Linked DNA regions of Homo sapiens: region 2 is linked to region 1. The links come from fine-mapping of genetic effects on gene expression. Tissue or cell type: whole blood. Region 1 holds a variant in brackets; the other region holds the start of a gene. All regions are shown on one strand. Distances are between the middles of the regions.

What was found. PIP is the estimated chance that this variant, and not a neighbour inherited with it, causes the effect.
Region 2: it holds the start of ADCY9, and the variant in region 1 is fine-mapped to the expression of ADCY9 in whole blood (TOPMed, PIP 0.95).

The regions. Positions count from the first base shown.
Region 1 is chr16:3,988,050-3,996,227 of GRCh38, reverse strand. It overlaps ADCY9 (adenylate cyclase 9), which reads left to right. Exons shown (of 11, transcript NM_001116.4): 4 at 2,718-2,822; 5 at 3,865-4,082; 6 at 7,132-7,234. LOC124903633 (a long non-coding RNA gene) reads right to left here and starts at 4,098. Exons shown (of 2, transcript XR_007064956.1): 1 at 3,320-4,098; 2 at 1,904-3,186. The variant T/G (reference allele first, on the strand shown) is at 3,234.
Region 2 is chr16:4,113,121-4,121,298 of GRCh38, reverse strand. It overlaps ADCY9 (adenylate cyclase 9), which reads left to right and starts at 4,857. Exons shown (of 11, transcript NM_001116.4): 1 at 4,857-5,609; 2 at 5,814-7,549. The coding sequence starts at 5,857. RefSeq lists silencers at 4,650-4,719, 7,713-7,923.

The sequences.
Region 1 (8,178 bases):
ATCAAGGTCAGCTAATTGGTTTTATTTTTAGTAGAGACAAGGTCTCCCTATGTTGCCCAGGCTGGTCTTGAACTCCTGGCCCTAAGCAGTCCTCCTGCTTCGGCCTCCCAAAGTTCTGGGATTACAGGTGTGAGCCAGCACACCAGCAAAATGTTTAGAAGTTTAACTCTGCCAGTCAATACCAAGAGGTGCTTTCAAATAGACTCACTGTATGTTATTGATAACTAGAACATTTTACCTCTGTTGATAATGTCAGTTTTTAAAGAGCTGTAAGCAAATGTTATCTAGATGCCATTATTTGCTCAGATATGTTAATTAATGATTTCGCTAGCTGTTTTGGCATGTATATTTTCATTTTTTGAATGCATACAAATGTTCAAATTTAGCTTGTATGTTACATCAGATTCCCAAACTATACAACCCTGTAGAATCTTTGTTTCTTTTATTTAATATAGTACAGGTCTGCAGTCTAACTTTAAATACAACCTGGGTCATATCTTTGCCCTTAGGTAGTGACACTTACTTTAAATTTCCAAAATAATATCTGGCCTCCCATAATTTATTTCAATGTTTTACACTTCTTGCTGCAAGGAAATTGCTTTTGAGTCCAAAAAAAAAAAAAAATATATTTCTTGCCACGGTTTGTCTTCTTCATTGGAAGCTGTTAGTTGCTTTCTTAGATGGTTCCTAGGTTACCTGGTCACATTAATAATAATAATAAGTTTATTACGGGTATACTGTATGCCAGGAACTGTGCTAGGCTATATATATACTTATTTCATTTAATTATTATTTTTTTAAGACAGGGTCTTTCTCTTTTGCCCCAGGCTGGAGTGCAGTGGCACCATCAAAGCTCACTGCGGCCTTGACCTCCCAGACTCAAGCAGCCCTCCCACCTCAGCCCCACAAGTAGCTGGGACTACAGGCACATGCCACCAGGCCAGGCTAATTTTTATGCTTTTTGTTGAGGCAGGGTTTTGCCATGTTGCCCAGGCTGGCCTCAAATTCCTGGACTCAAGCCATCCTCCCACCCCAGCTTCCCAAAGTGCTGGGATTACAGCCGCCACACCCAGCCAATTTCATTTAATTCTTAGCAACATATCTTCACTCTTTGTTTATAGATGAGGGAACTGAGGTAAAGTGATTTGAACAGAGTCTCCAAACTAGTAAGTACTTGACTAGGGTTTGAATCCTAGTTTATGAGAAATAAAGGCTTTGCTCTTTTTAGGGTACCTGTATTAAATCTTGCCTTCTCTTTTCTAGGTCCATTAATTCCTATAAACTTTTAAGTACGCCTAGATCTGGAAATCGTGTACCTTTGATTATTCAGCCCATCTTATGAGACTAGCTCACCATCACACGGAGCTTAAGAACCTTGGATTTGTGTCCTCGCATAGTTGGTGGCCAGTTTCTTTACTTAATAACAGCTTTGTTGAGATATAATTCACATACTATAAAATCGATCTTTTTGGCCAGGCACAGTGGCTCATGCTTGTAATCCCAGCACTTTGGGAGGCCAAGACGGGTGGATCACCTGAGGTCAGGAGTTCAAGACCAGCCTGGCCAACATGGCGAAACCCCGTTTCTACTAAAAACACAAAACAAGTAGCCGGGCGTGGTGGCAGGCACCTGTAATCGCAGCTACTCAGGAGGCTGAGGCAGGAGAATCGCTTGAACCCAGGAGGTGGACGTTGCAGTGAGCCAAGATCGTGACACTGTACTCCAGCCTGGGTGACAAGAGTGAAACTCCATCTCAAAAAATATTTAAAAATCGATCTTTTTAAAGTGTACAGTTCAGTGGTTTTTAGTATATTTAGCAAGGTTGTGCAACCATCACCGTGATCAATTTCAGAACATTTTTATCATCCCAAAGAGAAACCCTGTTGAAATACCACAAACCAGGTGGCTTTTAAACAACAGAAATGTATTTCTCAGGGTTCTGGAGGCTGGGAAGTCCGAGATCAAGGTCCCGGAAGATTCAGTGTCCAGTGAGGACCCGTTCCTGCTTCACAGATGGTGCCTTCTCCCAGGGCGAAGGGACGAGGGATTCCTCTGGGGCCTCTTTTATGAGGGCACTAATCCTATTTTGAAGGCTTGTCCCCCATGACCTAATTACCTCCCAAGGCTTTGCCCCCCAATGCCATCCCCTTGGGAATTAGGATTTCAGCGTCTGACTTTTGAGGGGGCACAAACATTCGAATCGTAGCAAACCCCACGCCCCTTAGCAGCCACTCCCCCTTCCTGCCCCCGGTCCCGCCTGGCAGCCAGGAATCTGCCTTCTCCCTCCAAGGATTCACCTTTTCTGAATATTTCACATAGACGGGATCACGTAATATCTGTGCTGTGTCTGGCTTCCCTCCCCGAGCATAATGTTTTCGAGGTTCACCATGCTGTGGCAGGCGTCAGTGCTTCCGTCTTTTTCGTGGCTGAGTAATATCCCATTGTTCGAATAGACCACAGTTTGTTGATCCATTGTTCAGTCAGTGAACATTCCCGGTTCCATTTTTGGGTCCTGTTGCGTTCGTGCCCGGGTTTCTGTGTGTTTCCACTGTCACTTTGCCCGTTGGCTTTCAGCTCATCCCCGAGCGGTTCTGTGTGCCTTCCCCTTGCTCACCACCATGCTGCGTGACGGCAGATGGCAACAGCGGACCTGCCTGAATTCAGGGTGGCAGTCGCGGTTTCTGGGTGTGTCCCCACAGTCTGTGTTTTTCTTCTAGACCTGCCCTTCGTGCGGAATCACATTTGCTCCCAAATCTGAAGCCGGCGCCGAGGGAGGAGCACCTCAAAACGGCTGCCAAGACGAGCATAAAAACAGCACCAAGGTAACAAGCTCATGGCTGTTGTTCCTGTCAGTTCCTCTCCTGGCGCATCCACCCAAGGTGACATTCCTGTCTTGTCGACTTCTTAGTTCTGAGAGTAACTCCTCTTGGGTAACAGCACTCCGCACCCGCGGGTCCTCCGGGTGTTGAAGAGACCGGCAGGGAGCTCGAGGGAGGGTCAGCAGCAACCCACGTGGAAACCAGCGCTCAGGGGCTGAGCTGGGCGGGATTCCTTTAAAGGCCAATAAGGGTTTAAAATGCGTGGATTCGAGTGCCGGGAGGGGATTTGTGGTACTGGAAGCTGGACTCAGTTTATGAGAGAATATAGACGGGCAGAGACAAGAGGGGGTCTTCACGGCGAGAAAGGCTGGGTGAAGAGAGAGGTTGGGAGTTAGGGCCGGTGGCAGGAAGGCT[T/G]TCAGGAAAACCAGACTTGGACACCAGGGCCAGGACTCAGCCCACCCGCGAGAGCCTGTCGGCGGGGGCTCATGCAGGCGACTCACCTGGGGCGCGGGCTCTCGTCCTCCATCTGCTCTCCATCTGCCAAAGGATTGCAGGTGCAGGTCATCCCATGCCTTCCCACAGCCACGGGGGACACCCACGACACGAGCCCGTTTCCATCCACCTTGCCTGTGCCCTGACAGCCCTGGACCCCTCGTCATACTTCTCCTGGACCCCCGACCCATGCACCCTGCTCCCAGAACCGTGGTTCTGGCCTAAGCAGACTCTGGGGGCCTCGGCTCCTCACTTTCCTCCCTTCCCCTCCACCTCCGCACCGACTCTTCCCATGTCTCAATGTCCTGGCAGCCTGAACACCCAGCGTTACCACTGGGCACTGTTGGGTAACAGGAAGGAGCAGACGGGCAGTCAGGGCTGGGATTGGAGCAGGTCTGTAGGCGCAGGGGGGTGGGGGTTCCTCGCAGGTCAGAAAGTCCCACGCCCAGTGCAGCAGCGCCCCGCAGCGGAGGTCGGGGTGGGACAGGCGTGTGTGCCCAGTGCCCGGTGCCACTTCACTTCCCGTGTCTGCGTCCTCTTTGTCTCGAGGCAGGCTTCTGGAGGACCTAATCCCAAAACTCAGAACGGGCTCCTCAGCCCTCCCCAAGAGGAGAAGCTCACCAACAGTCAGACTTCTCTGTGTGAGATCTTGCAGGAGAAGGGAAGGTGGGCAGGGGTGAGCCTGGACCAGTCGGCTCTCCTTCCGCTGAGGTTCAAGAACATCCGGGAGAAAACGGACGCCCACTTTGTGGACGTTATCAAAGAAGACAGGTACGACTGGGGCTGTCTGGGAAAAAGCAAAGGTTGCAGGCAGAAGCCTCTCTGCCTTTTTCTTTTCTTTTCTTTAAGACTGAGTCTCGCTCTGTCATCCAGGCTGCAGTGCAGTGGCGCGATCTTGGCTCACTGCAGCCTCTATCTCCCAGGTTCAAACGATGCTCCTGCCTCAGCCTCCCAAGTAGCTGGGGTTACTGGCACCCACCACCATGCCTGGCTAGGTTTTGTATTTTTAGTAGAGATGGAGTTTCATCATGTTGGCCAGGCTGGTCTCCATACTCCTGACCTCGGGTGATCCACCTACCCCACCCTCCCAGAGTGCTGGGATTATAGGCGTGAGCCACCACGCCTGGCTTTTTTTTTTTTTTTTTTTTTTTTTATAAGGACTAGGTCTTGCTGTGTTGCCCAGGCTGGAGTGCAGTGGCTCAATCTCGGCTCACTGCAACCTCCACCTCCCAGGTTCAAGTAATTCTCCTGCCTAGGTCTCTCAAGTAGCTGGGACTACAGGCATACACAACCATGCCCAGCTAATTTTTGTGTTTTTAGTAGAGATGGGTTTTTAACATGTTGGCCAGGCGGGTCTCGAACTCTTGGCCTCAGGTGATCTGCCCGCCTCGGCCTCCTAAAGTGCTGGGATTACAGGTGTGAGCCTGTGCCTGGCCTAATGGTAACATTTTTGAAAAATACAGGTCCAGTCCTTTTATCAAATATTCCTGAAGTTGGATTGGTTAGATTCAGGCTCTCCCTCTGGCCAGGCAGAGACTGCAGAAGGGATGCCGTGTCCTCCTCAGGGTGTCCTCTCCAGGGACACGCAGTGCCCGTCTGTTCCTCATTAGTGATACTAATTTTGATTAATTAGGCAAGGTGGTGCCGGGTTGTCTCATCTAGGGTTATTATATTCCTCTTATGACTAATAAGCAATCTGTGAGAAAATACTTGAAGATCTTGTACATATTTCATTCCCCATCAGAATTCCCTAGATTTAACATTCATTGATGATTCTTGCCTCTGTCTTCACTATAATGCCTCAAAGGGTGATTTTCAGCCAGGCGCTGTGGCTCACGCCTATAATCCCAACACTTTGGGAGGCCGAGGCAGGTAGATCACCTGAAGTCAGGGGTTCAAGACCAGCCTGGCCAACAAGGTGAAACCCCGTCTCTACTAAAAGTACAAAAATTAGCTGGGCGTGGTGGCGGGTGCCTGTCATCCCAGCTACTCAGGAGGCTGAGGTAGGAGAATCGCTTGAACCCAGGAGGCAGAGGCTGCAATGAGCTGAGATCGCAGCACTGCAACTCCAGCCTGGGCAACAGAGCGAGTCTCCATCTCAAAAAACAAATAAGAAATAAATGGAGCAGCACAGCTAATAGCAGTGTCGCTTCTGCCACTTGACTGCTAAAATGTGGCCTTGTGCACATCCTCTCTGCAGCTGCGTGGTTGCTCTTCCCTCAGTCCACACTCCCTGAGTCAGGGGAGGAGAGAGGGTCAGTGTCCTGGGACAGAATTATTTCTCTTCTGAGTCTGAGAATGTTGGAAGTTACTGGATACCTGTCACAGAAAGGAGAGTGTCCGCCGTGCTGCAAGGACAGGAAGGAACACACGTGATGAGCCGTACTTTGTGTGGGGGGCACATGAGGCACTTGACATATTTCACCTGATTTACTCTTTTTTTTTTTTTTTGAGACATAGTCTTGCTGTGTCACCCAGGCTGTAATGCAGTGGCGCCATCTTGGCTCATTGCAACCTCCATCTCCCAGGTTCAAGTGATTCTCCTGCCTTAGCCACCCGAGTAGCTGGGATTACAGGCACCTGCCACCAGGCCTGGCTAATTTTTGTATTTTTTGTAGAAACGGGGGTTCACCATGTTGGCCAGGCTGGTCCCGAGCTCCTGACCTCAGGTGATCCGCTTGCCTCGGCCTCCCAAAGGTCTGGGGATTACAAGGATGAGCCACCGCGCCCAGCCTCGTCTAATTTACTTCTGATAGTCACTGTATGAGGGAGAGAGGCTAACACAGCTATATTTGCTTTCTGAAATCATGTTAACGTTCCCTTAGTTTCTAGTAATTTTCTGCAGTATAGAAAGGATATTACTATTTGCTGGCAATTCATAAATGAATGAAAGAGTCATGGAAAGCGGGGTTGATTTCCCTGCTATTAAAATCACTGAGCTTTATCATTCTGCAGGTTTCACATGCAATCTGCATATGTGACAATAGCACCAAAATTACGCTAACTATAAACACAATTTTGTGATAACAACCTGTTAGCTTTTACGGTGGCAATTACTGTCAGTGCTCTGAATGACAGGACCGCCGGTTCTGAATTATGTTTTCGTTTGAAGCCTCCAAATCCATGTAAGTACTCTCAGCACAGTGATCTGCGTGTTCTTCACAAAAGATTGTTTCAAAGAACAGAAAAGCTGCCTTCATCTTCTCCTAATCCTAGACATTAGGAATGTGTTTTCAAAAACAAGCCTCAGCAGCTCACGCTGTCATCCCAGCACTTTGGGAGGCCGAGATGGGTGGATCTCTTGAGCCCAGGAGTTCGAGACCAGCCTGACCAACATGGTGAAACCCCGCGTCTGCTAAAAAATACAAAAATTAGCTGGGTGCGGTGGCAGGCGCCTGTAATCCCAGCTACTCAGGAGGCTGAGGCAGGAGAATTGCTTGAACCTGGGAGGCGGAGATTGCAGTGAGCCAAGATCGCTGCGCCATTGCACTCCAGCCTGGGCGACAGAGTGAGACCTTGCCTCAAAAAAAAAAAACCCCAAAAAACCAAGGTTCTGATGATGTGTGCTATAATCATGGTGGATGGTCATTCTTTAACGAAGGTGAAACACAAAATATGATTATGCTTTGAGGTGCGAAGGACTTTCCACAGATCTGTTTTAACAAGGGGCAGCTGAGTGGCGTCTGTTCCACAGGCGCTTTTAGACGCAGCTGTTGTAATATACCTAATGAGCAGCGTTTTGGTAGCTAATTATGATCTGAAAACATTGGCACAGTTATGGTGCTGGGTATTGATCGACTGCATTTGTTGTGTCTTCTAGCCTGATGAAAGATTACTTTTTTAAGCCGCCCATTAATCAGTTCAGCCTGAACTTCCTGGATCAGGAGCTGGAGCGATCCTACAGGACCAGCTATCAGGAAGAGGTGCGTTCATTTCTCCTTGCGCTTTTACTAAAGAATGTGTTTGTTGTTCTCACATGGTCATTCACTGTTAGTTTTGTGCTTTACCAAGGGATGGGAACACGAAGGCGAACATTGATTTCCCACACTCTGTAAACCCTAAGTGGCAACTGTACATGAAATGTCTCTTTGCAAAGGAGGAAAAAAACCCTTTCTTTAGTCCTTTGTCTTAAAGCGCAGCCTCGCCATTACTAGCCCCTTTCCTCTGCCGTGGCATCTCCAGGCTATCCCCAGCCTTGGAAGGGGCCCCCCCACCACAACCTGTCCTGAAAGGAAACCCCCAACCTGCCCTGGAAGGAAACCCCCCCACCTGCCTTGGAAGGGGCCCCCACACCTGCCCTGGTAAAGGAACCCCCCCCACCTGCCATGGAAGGGGTCCCCCACCTGCCCTGGAAAGGAACCCCTCCCCACCTGCCCTGGAAAGGAACCCCGACACCTGCCCTGGAAGGGAACCCCCCACACCTGCCCTGGAAGGGAATCCCCCACACCTGCCCTGGAAGGGAACCCCCCACCTGCCCTGGAAGGGAACTCCCCACCGACCTGCCCTGGAAGAGCCCCCGTCCCACCTGTCCTGGAGTCTTGGGTGAGACTCTTCTCTGTTGCCCTCCCTGCTTTCTTCCCCTGAGAAGGGCCCAGGAGGCCTTCACCTCTCTCTCTAACTCCGGCTCCATGTTCCCTCTCCCGCCCCCACCGCCTTAACCCCTTGTACTTGACTTCTCAGCCCATCACCCAATCCCACTTCCTCCAAGAAGCTCTCCCCGACTGCAGACTGGATTGTACTTCCCTTCATACACTTCCTTCTCCGTGTGTGCCCCATTTTGGAATCTTTCCGTGTGTGGTTCTGGATTCGTGTTCCTCCCTCCCTAGATGCTCAGCTCTGTGAGGTAGGACCCCCGTCTCTCTCCTCC
Region 2 (8,178 bases), 130 kb before region 1:
AACCTTTTTTTTTTTTTTTTTTTGAGGTGGAGTCTCTGTCGCCCAGGCTGGAGTGCAGTGGCGAGATCTCGGCTCATTGCAAGCTCCGCCTCCTGGTTGAACCCATTAAAAAAAAATAAAAATATATTAATATAACTCCCATATGCAGTCATTCAATGAATTTGTATTGGCCTCTAAACTGGGCATGGCTGGATGTAGAATCTATGGATGTGGCTAGATGGAATACACCTGGTTATGGAGGCACCTGCAGGTATTTTGGTGATCTTCTCCAAAGGATCTTTTGCTTTGCTGAGACGCCTGATCTTCCTGTCAATGTGAAGGTAGCTGCTGGAGGCTTGTGAACAGCAGTCAATGGTAGAGAAAAAATGTGGGTAAAGGCCAAGCGTGTGGCTCACATCTATAATCCCAGCACTTTGGGAGGCCGAGGCAGGAGGATCACTTGAGGTCAGGAGTTCAAGACCAGCCTGGCCAACATGGTGAAACCCTGCCTCTACTAAAAATACAAAAATTAGCTGGGTGTGGTGGCATATGCTCATAGTCTCAGCTACTTGGGAGGCTGAGGCAGGACAATTGCCTGAACCTGGGAAATGGAAGTTGCAGTGAGCTGAGATCATGCTACTACACTCTAGCCTGGGTGACAGAGTGAGACTCCATCTCAAAAAAAAAAAAAAAAAAAAAAAAAAAAAAGCAGGTACGTTCCTACAAACTCACCCTCATCAGTTGAAAGAGAAAAAGACTCAAAGCTTGTAACTGCAGTTTTGGACGCATGATCAGGCCATAGCAGGGAATCCCATCTTCCAGCAGATGGTTCTCCAAGATTGTGGTCCACCTGACAAATGAAATCACGTAGGCACTGCCGAGTCCTCAGGGGCCGGTGTGATGAGAATGGCTACAACTCAATCATTATGCAACTTATCTCAAAGCCTGTCATGGTTGCCACCCAGTCTGACCTCTGATATCCTGGAGCCAAGGTCCTCACCCATCATGTGAATTTGCATGTGAGGGAGGGTGAGGAGGAGACACTGAGGCAGGCAAGGCATTCTGCAAGCTTTTGCAGAGTTTTCATGGACACATTCTGATTCCCACTGTGTCCAGGTGGGAGTTCTGTACACATCACAGATGGAAAAAAGAAACTCTCTGTGGATTTGGCAGCACCCTGGATTGGATGTTTGAAGAAAGCTATTGCATCTGCCCCGTATCTTCTGTGAATCGGGTACCTTTATGCTTCTGGGAGGTCAAGAAGAACCCAGAACCCTCCAGTGACTTCCCTTTGGGTCTTGGCATTATGAGAAGATGGTTAACCTCCTTTATAGAACTCTCCTTCACATCCAATCCTTCAGAAAGCCTAATTGATCCCATCTTCTTAACCCAACCCCTCCCCTGGACATCGTTCCTAAGCCCCTTAAAGAAACAGATGGCGGCTGGGCACGGTGGCTCACGCCTGTAATCCCAGCACTTTTGGGAGGCCAAGGCATGTGAATCATGAGGTCAGGAGTTCGAGACCAGCCTGGCCAATATGGTGAAACCCTGTCTCTACTAAAAATACAAAAATCAGCTGGGCATGGTGGTAATCCCAGCTCCACTGGAGGCTGAGGTAGGAGAATTGCTTGAACCCCGGGAGGCAAAGGTTGCAGTGATCCGAGATCGCACCATTGCACTCTAGTCTGGGTGACAAAGCGAGACTCCGTCTCAAAAAAAAAAAAAAAGAAAAGAAAAGAAAAGATATGGATGGCATATCCTTGTACCTCCAGGGCCTGACACACAGTGCTGGCACCACAGCCCCAGTCCCCCGGGGTTGATGGCATGATTCACTCCCTGACCTGGAGACTGGGGAGGCTTGTCAGCTTATAGGTTTCCACAGCAGGCAATGTGGCCGAATTGCTTCCAGAGAAGTAGGGAGGTGAGTATGACCATTACTTGTGTCTAAAAATCCGACGTGACTAACTTACAAACACATAAGTTACCACAAATGATTTAGGGAGGAGGAAAGAAGTGCAGACAGGCAAGCTTTCAGATCGTTTCAGGAAACCAGGAAGCAGGGAGCACAGCGTTGCAGCCAGCAAGGGAAGACGGAAGCTGTGAGTCCTGGCTCTGAGGGCCTCCCATCCAGTTGGGCTGATGGATGAGACAGGTACAGTCTGTGCTGGGCCATCGTGAGGCTTGCAGAGGGTAGTGCCAGGGTCACACAAGGCGTCATGGCCTCAGAATTCTGAGACCTGGTTTTCCATCTGAACTCATCACCCTTAGTGGGAGACCTAGGGTGCGTTTCTCTTCAATCCTGGGTTTCACCTCTCTAAACAAGGGACAATAGTATCTACCTCAGAGGGTTGTGGCAATGACCAAATGTGTCACAGGTGAAAATGTCCAGTAGTTTCTGGCATTTATGACGTGTTCGGTCAATGTTAGTTCACTATTGTTATCCCATTTACTAAGCGAATGCATGTGACACACCATGCGTTTCTGAACCTCGTATGTGAGAGTGCCTGGCATAGAATTGATGTTCATTAAAGGTTTATTTTTTAAATTTTTAGATAAACTTATTTTGAAATAGTTTTAGACTTGAAGAGTTGCAGAAATACTAGCGAGTTTCCCTGTATCCTACATCCAGCTTCCCCTAATTTTTTTTCCCCCAAGATGGAGTCCTGCTCTGTTGCCCAGGCTGGAGTGCAGTGGCATGATCTCGGTTCACTGCAAACTCCGTCTCCTGGATTCAAGTGATTCTTGTGCCTCAGCCTCCTGAGTAGCTGGGATTACAGGCGCACACCACCATGCCCAACTAATTTCTGTATTTTTAGTAGAGACGGGGGTTTCACCATGCTGGCCAGGCTGGTCTTGAACTCCTAACCTCAGGTGGTCTGTCTGCCTCAGCCTCCCAAAGTGCTGGGATTACAGGTGTGAGCCACTGCACAGGGCCCAGCTTCCCCTAAAAATGTTAACGTCTTACCTAACCATAGTAAGAGGATCAGAACCAGGAAATTGCAGATCTTATGTGAATTTTGCCCGCTCTCCTGCTACTGTCCTTTCCTGTTCCATGTTCCCAACCAGCATCCCATGTTCCATTTAGTTGTTGTATCTATCCCCTTAGGGACGATTCCTAGATTGTGACAGTTTCTCAGTCTTTGTCTTTCAAGACCCAAAGTGTCCAAGGACACTTTTGATGGGTACTGGTTAATCACTTTGTAGAACAGGTCTCAATCTGGGTTTGTCTGGTGTTTTCTTGCGATTGGATTGAGATTACACACTTCTGCAGGAATACCACCACAATATGTTGCTTTTAGTTTTTTCCTCCTTTATTGTGGTAAAATACACTCAACATAACATTTACCATTTAAACCACTTTATTTTATTTTATTATTATTTTTTGAGATGGAGTTTCACTCTTGTTGCCCAGGCTGGAGTGTAATGGTGCGAACTCAGCTCACCACAACCTCCGCCTCCCGGGTTCAAGCAATTCTCCTGCCTCGGCCTCTCGAGTAGCTGGGATTACAGGCATGTGCCACCACGTCCGGCTAATTTTTGTATTTTTAGTAGAGATGGGGTTTCTCCGTGTTGGTCAGGCTGGTCTCGAACTCCCGACCTCAGGTGATCCGCCCACCTCGGCCTCCCAAAGTGCTGGGATTACAGGCGTGAGCCACCGCTCCCGGCCTAAACCACTTTAAAGTGTATGATTCAAGGGCAGTATGTAGATTCATCCTGTTGGATCATTTCTAGACTTTTTCATCATCCTAAAACGAAACCCCAAGCTGCTTATCTTCCTCCCCTAGCACCTGGCAACCTCCAATCTGTGTCGCCTCTACGGATTTGCCAATTCGAGACATTTCATCTGGATGGAATCATACGCTATGTGGCCTTTTTTGTTTGGCTTCTTTCACTAGCATAACGTTTCCCGGGTTCCTCCACACTGCAGCATGCATCGGTGCTCCATTCCTTTTTGTAGCCGAATAATATTCCATTGCATGGACAGATCACATTTTACTTTTATTTTCTAATTCAACAGTGAGACCTGGTGTGGGCCCCGGCGCTGGGCCTGGGAGGCGAGGGAGGGGATGGAAGAGAGCCCCGTGACTGGCAGGAGGCACTGTGGAGTGTGGGGAGAAGGGGTCGGGATCTGCATGCTAGAGAGAATAGGATTTTATTTACACGTGGCAATGTTTATGGAGGCCAATGCACAACTGCCATTATGGGACGCGGACTCCTTTGAAAGTCTCATTTGTGTAAAAGGAAAAGCAGTAGTTCATGAGGAGGGGGAGAAGGGCTCAAGGACAGCAAGGTAAACTACCCCTGGGGCGGGGGAACGTGGTCGTCGGTGGGCCCAGCTTTGGAGGCTAGGCCCGTGAAGGTCGCCCCGTGAGCAGGTCCAGGGCAGGCCGAGTGCCCCGGGGCCCGCATTCATTGCTTACAGAGCAAGGGGAGCCTCCCGGGAGGGAAATCCAACGGTTGGAAACTTCGATTTATCCCAAAGGCGTGCCGAGTGGGAAGGCAACATTTTGATTTCCCAAACGTTGCGGCCAGCGGCTTCTTCCACGGCAGGCGCCTTCAGGTCTCTCCGCAGGGTCGGGACCCCGGGCGGCGCGCGGCCTCTGGGACGCCGAGGGAGGGCGGGCCCACAGCGCCCGGAGCGCGGACAGCGGCCACAGCCCGCCGCCTAGAAGCGGCGCCGCCCGGGGCGGGGGGCGGAGCCGAGCGCGCGCCCCGCCCCGCCCCGCCCCGCCCCGCAGCCCCAGCCCAGCGCGCGCACCAAGGCGGGGCGGCGCGCGGCCCGTGCGCGTGTCCGGGGCCAGGAGGCGGTGGCGGCGAGCGCGGGCCGCGCGTGCGCGCTGCGGCTGGGCGAGGGGCGGCGCGGGCGCGCGTCTGTCAGTGACAGCGGGCGGGGCAGGGGCCGGAGATGGTGGCGGCGGCAGCTCTTCCGACATGAGGCAGCGGCCGCGGGGGACACGGCGGCGGGCGCGGCGGCGGCCGCATCTCTAGCTCGGGGAGGCGGCCCCCGGCGTGGGCGCGGGCGGGCGGGCGTCCCGGCCGGCGTCGCGGGAGCCCGGCTCTGCGGCAGCGTCTGCACCGCCGCCCGGCGAGGGGCCCGCGTCCGTGGTTCCACGCGCTCGGTCCCGGGACAGCTGCGGCCGCGGCGGGAGCGGCGGCGCACTCGGGGGGAAGCAGGCCCCACTAGACGGGCCGCGCCGACGGGCTCCGCGCACTCGCAGCCCGGGGCGCCCCCACCCCCAGCGCCCGCCGCCGCGGGCAGGGCCGGCCCGGAGCGCGGGGGGCGGCCGGGGAGCGCGAGCCGGGGGCGCCCGCCGAAGCTCGCTGCTCCGGGTCGGGGTCCGGGCCCGGGGCCGGCCGCGCGCCGCCTTTGACGCATCGGAGCGCGGCTCCTGCAGGATGGAGGGCTCCGCGCCGCCAGCGGAGTTGTTTGTGCGCAGGCGGCTCGCGGGGCTGGGAGCGCTCAAGGTCTGAACTTCCCTCCGGAGCCGCAGCTGGAGGAGGCGAGCGCGCGAGGAGGAGAAGCCGCGCGGCGCGGAGGCCACCCTCGGGGCGAGAGGCGCGGAAGGCGAGCGAGCAAAGCGGTCCCGGAGCCACGGCGGCCACGCGGCGGGGACCCCCGGGCGTTCTAGGTCCGTCCCGAGCGGTTCTCGTGCGCCTCGAAGGTGGGGGCGGTGGGGGCGGTGGGAGCACCGCTGAGCCGGGAACCACAGGAACAGATGGTGCCTGTCCAGGTCGCGTGCTGGAGCCGCCCCTTAGGACAGGAGCAGGTCCCGGGCCTCTAGGCGTGCATGCCTAGGTGGGAGCGCCGCTAACTCTCCCCGTTTTGCTGGCAGGTACTGGTGACCCCGGCCGGGGCAGGCCCCGGGACTCGACAACATGGCTTCCCCACCCCACCAGCAGCTGCTGCATCACCACAGCACCGAGGTGAGCTGCGACTCCAGCGGGGACAGCAACAGCGTGCGCGTCAAGATCAACCCCAAGCAGCTGTCCTCCAACAGCCACCCCAAGCACTGCAAATACAGCATCTCCTCTAGCTGCAGCAGCTCTGGGGACTCCGGGGGCGTCCCCCGGCGAGTGGGCGGCGGAGGCCGGCTGCGCAGGCAGAAGAAGCTGCCCCAGCTGTTCGAGAGGGCCTCCAGCCGCTGGTGGGACCCCAAGTTCGACTCGGTGAACCTGGAGGAGGCCTGCCTGGAGCGCTGCTTCCCGCAGACCCAGCGCCGGTTCCGGTATGCGCTCTTCTACATCGGCTTCGCCTGCCTTCTGTGGAGCATCTATTTTGCGGTCCACATGAGATCCAGACTGATCGTCATGGTCGCCCCCGCGCTGTGCTTCCTCCTGGTGTGTGTGGGCTTCTTTCTGTTTACCTTCACCAAGCTGTACGCCCGGCATTACGCGTGGACCTCGCTGGCTCTCACCCTGCTGGTGTTCGCCCTGACCCTGGCTGCGCAGTTCCAGGTCTTGACGCCTGTCTCAGGACGCGGCGACAGCTCCAACCTTACGGCCACAGCCCGGCCCACAGATACTTGCTTATCTCAAGTGGGGAGCTTCTCCATGTGCATCGAAGTGCTCTTTTTGCTCTATACCGTCATGCACTTACCTTTGTACCTGAGTTTGTGTCTGGGGGTGGCCTACTCTGTCCTTTTCGAGACCTTTGGCTACCATTTCCGGGATGAAGCCTGCTTCCCCTCGCCCGGAGCCGGGGCCCTGCACTGGGAGCTGCTGAGCAGGGGGCTGCTCCACGGCTGCATCCACGCCATCGGGGTCCACCTGTTCGTCATGTCCCAGGTGAGGTCCAGGAGCACCTTCCTCAAGGTGGGGCAATCCATTATGCACGGGAAGGACCTGGAAGTGGAAAAAGCCCTCAAAGAGAGGATGATTCATTCCGTGATGCCAAGAATCATAGCCGATGACTTAATGAAGCAGGGAGATGAGGAGAGTGAGAATTCTGTCAAGAGGCATGCCACCTCGAGCCCCAAGAACAGGAAGAAAAAGTCTTCCATCCAAAAAGCTCCTATAGCCTTCCGCCCTTTTAAGATGCAGCAGATCGAAGAAGTCAGTATTTTATTTGCAGATATCGTGGGCTTCACCAAGATGAGTGCCAACAAGTCTGCCCACGCCCTGGTGGGTCTCCTGAACGATCTGTTCGGTCGCTTCGACCGCCTGTGTGAGGAGACCAAGTGTGAGAAAATCAGCACCCTGGGAGACTGTTACTACTGCGTGGCGGGCTGTCCCGAGCCCCGGGCCGACCATGCCTACTGCTGCATCGAGATGGGCCTGGGCATGATCAAGGCCATCGAGCAGTTCTGCCAGGAGAAGAAGGAGATGGTGAACATGAGAGTCGGGGTGCACACGGGCACCGTCCTTTGCGGCATCCTGGGCATGAGGAGGTTTAAATTTGACGTGTGGTCCAACGATGTGAACCTGGCCAATCTCATGGAGCAGCTGGGAGTGGCCGGCAAAGTTCACATTTCTGAGGCCACCGCAAAATACTTAGATGACCGGTACGAAATGGAAGATGGGAAAGTTATTGAACGGCTGGGCCAGAGCGTGGTTGCTGACCAGTTGAAAGGTATGTGCACTGCTTTACCTCGGCATCCCCCCTCCCTGATCCTGATTGTATTAAATTAAAAAAAAAAGCTTCCAGCCTCAGTGTCTGCAGACAGCTCAGGTATCTCAGAATGCCTTACCATGGGGGGATCTCAGGGTCAGTGTGACTTTTCTTTCAGCGGGTCAAATATCACAGATCTGTTCACACTGCAGAAAGGGACGCTGTGCAGAGATGACCTAGACGCGACCTTTAGAAGGAAGGAGAACTTTGAACGTGCATAACCACTGGTTGGCTGAAATGTGGGGGCACGTCCGGTGAATGTAAGGGTATGGAGCCCTTCAGCATTCAGCACTGTTTAGCACTTAAGGAAATTGCCTTTGCATTCATTTGGTCACCCTGAAGTCCCATCCAAATGTTTCTCTCTGCCCTTTTTGCGAAAACGTGGAGAATAAAATCTTTCTCCTCTCTAGGCCTCACTTTGCTTATCCTCAAAATAGGGATAGGAAGTCGGCGCAGTCCTGCAGGTCTCTGGAGAATTAGACGGAGTTACTTACCTCTGAGTACACACTGTCTTTTATCTAGGTCTTTTTTTTTTTTTAAAAAAAGTTTGCATTTTCAGCTTTCAGCCATCATTTGTTTAAGGATATTTT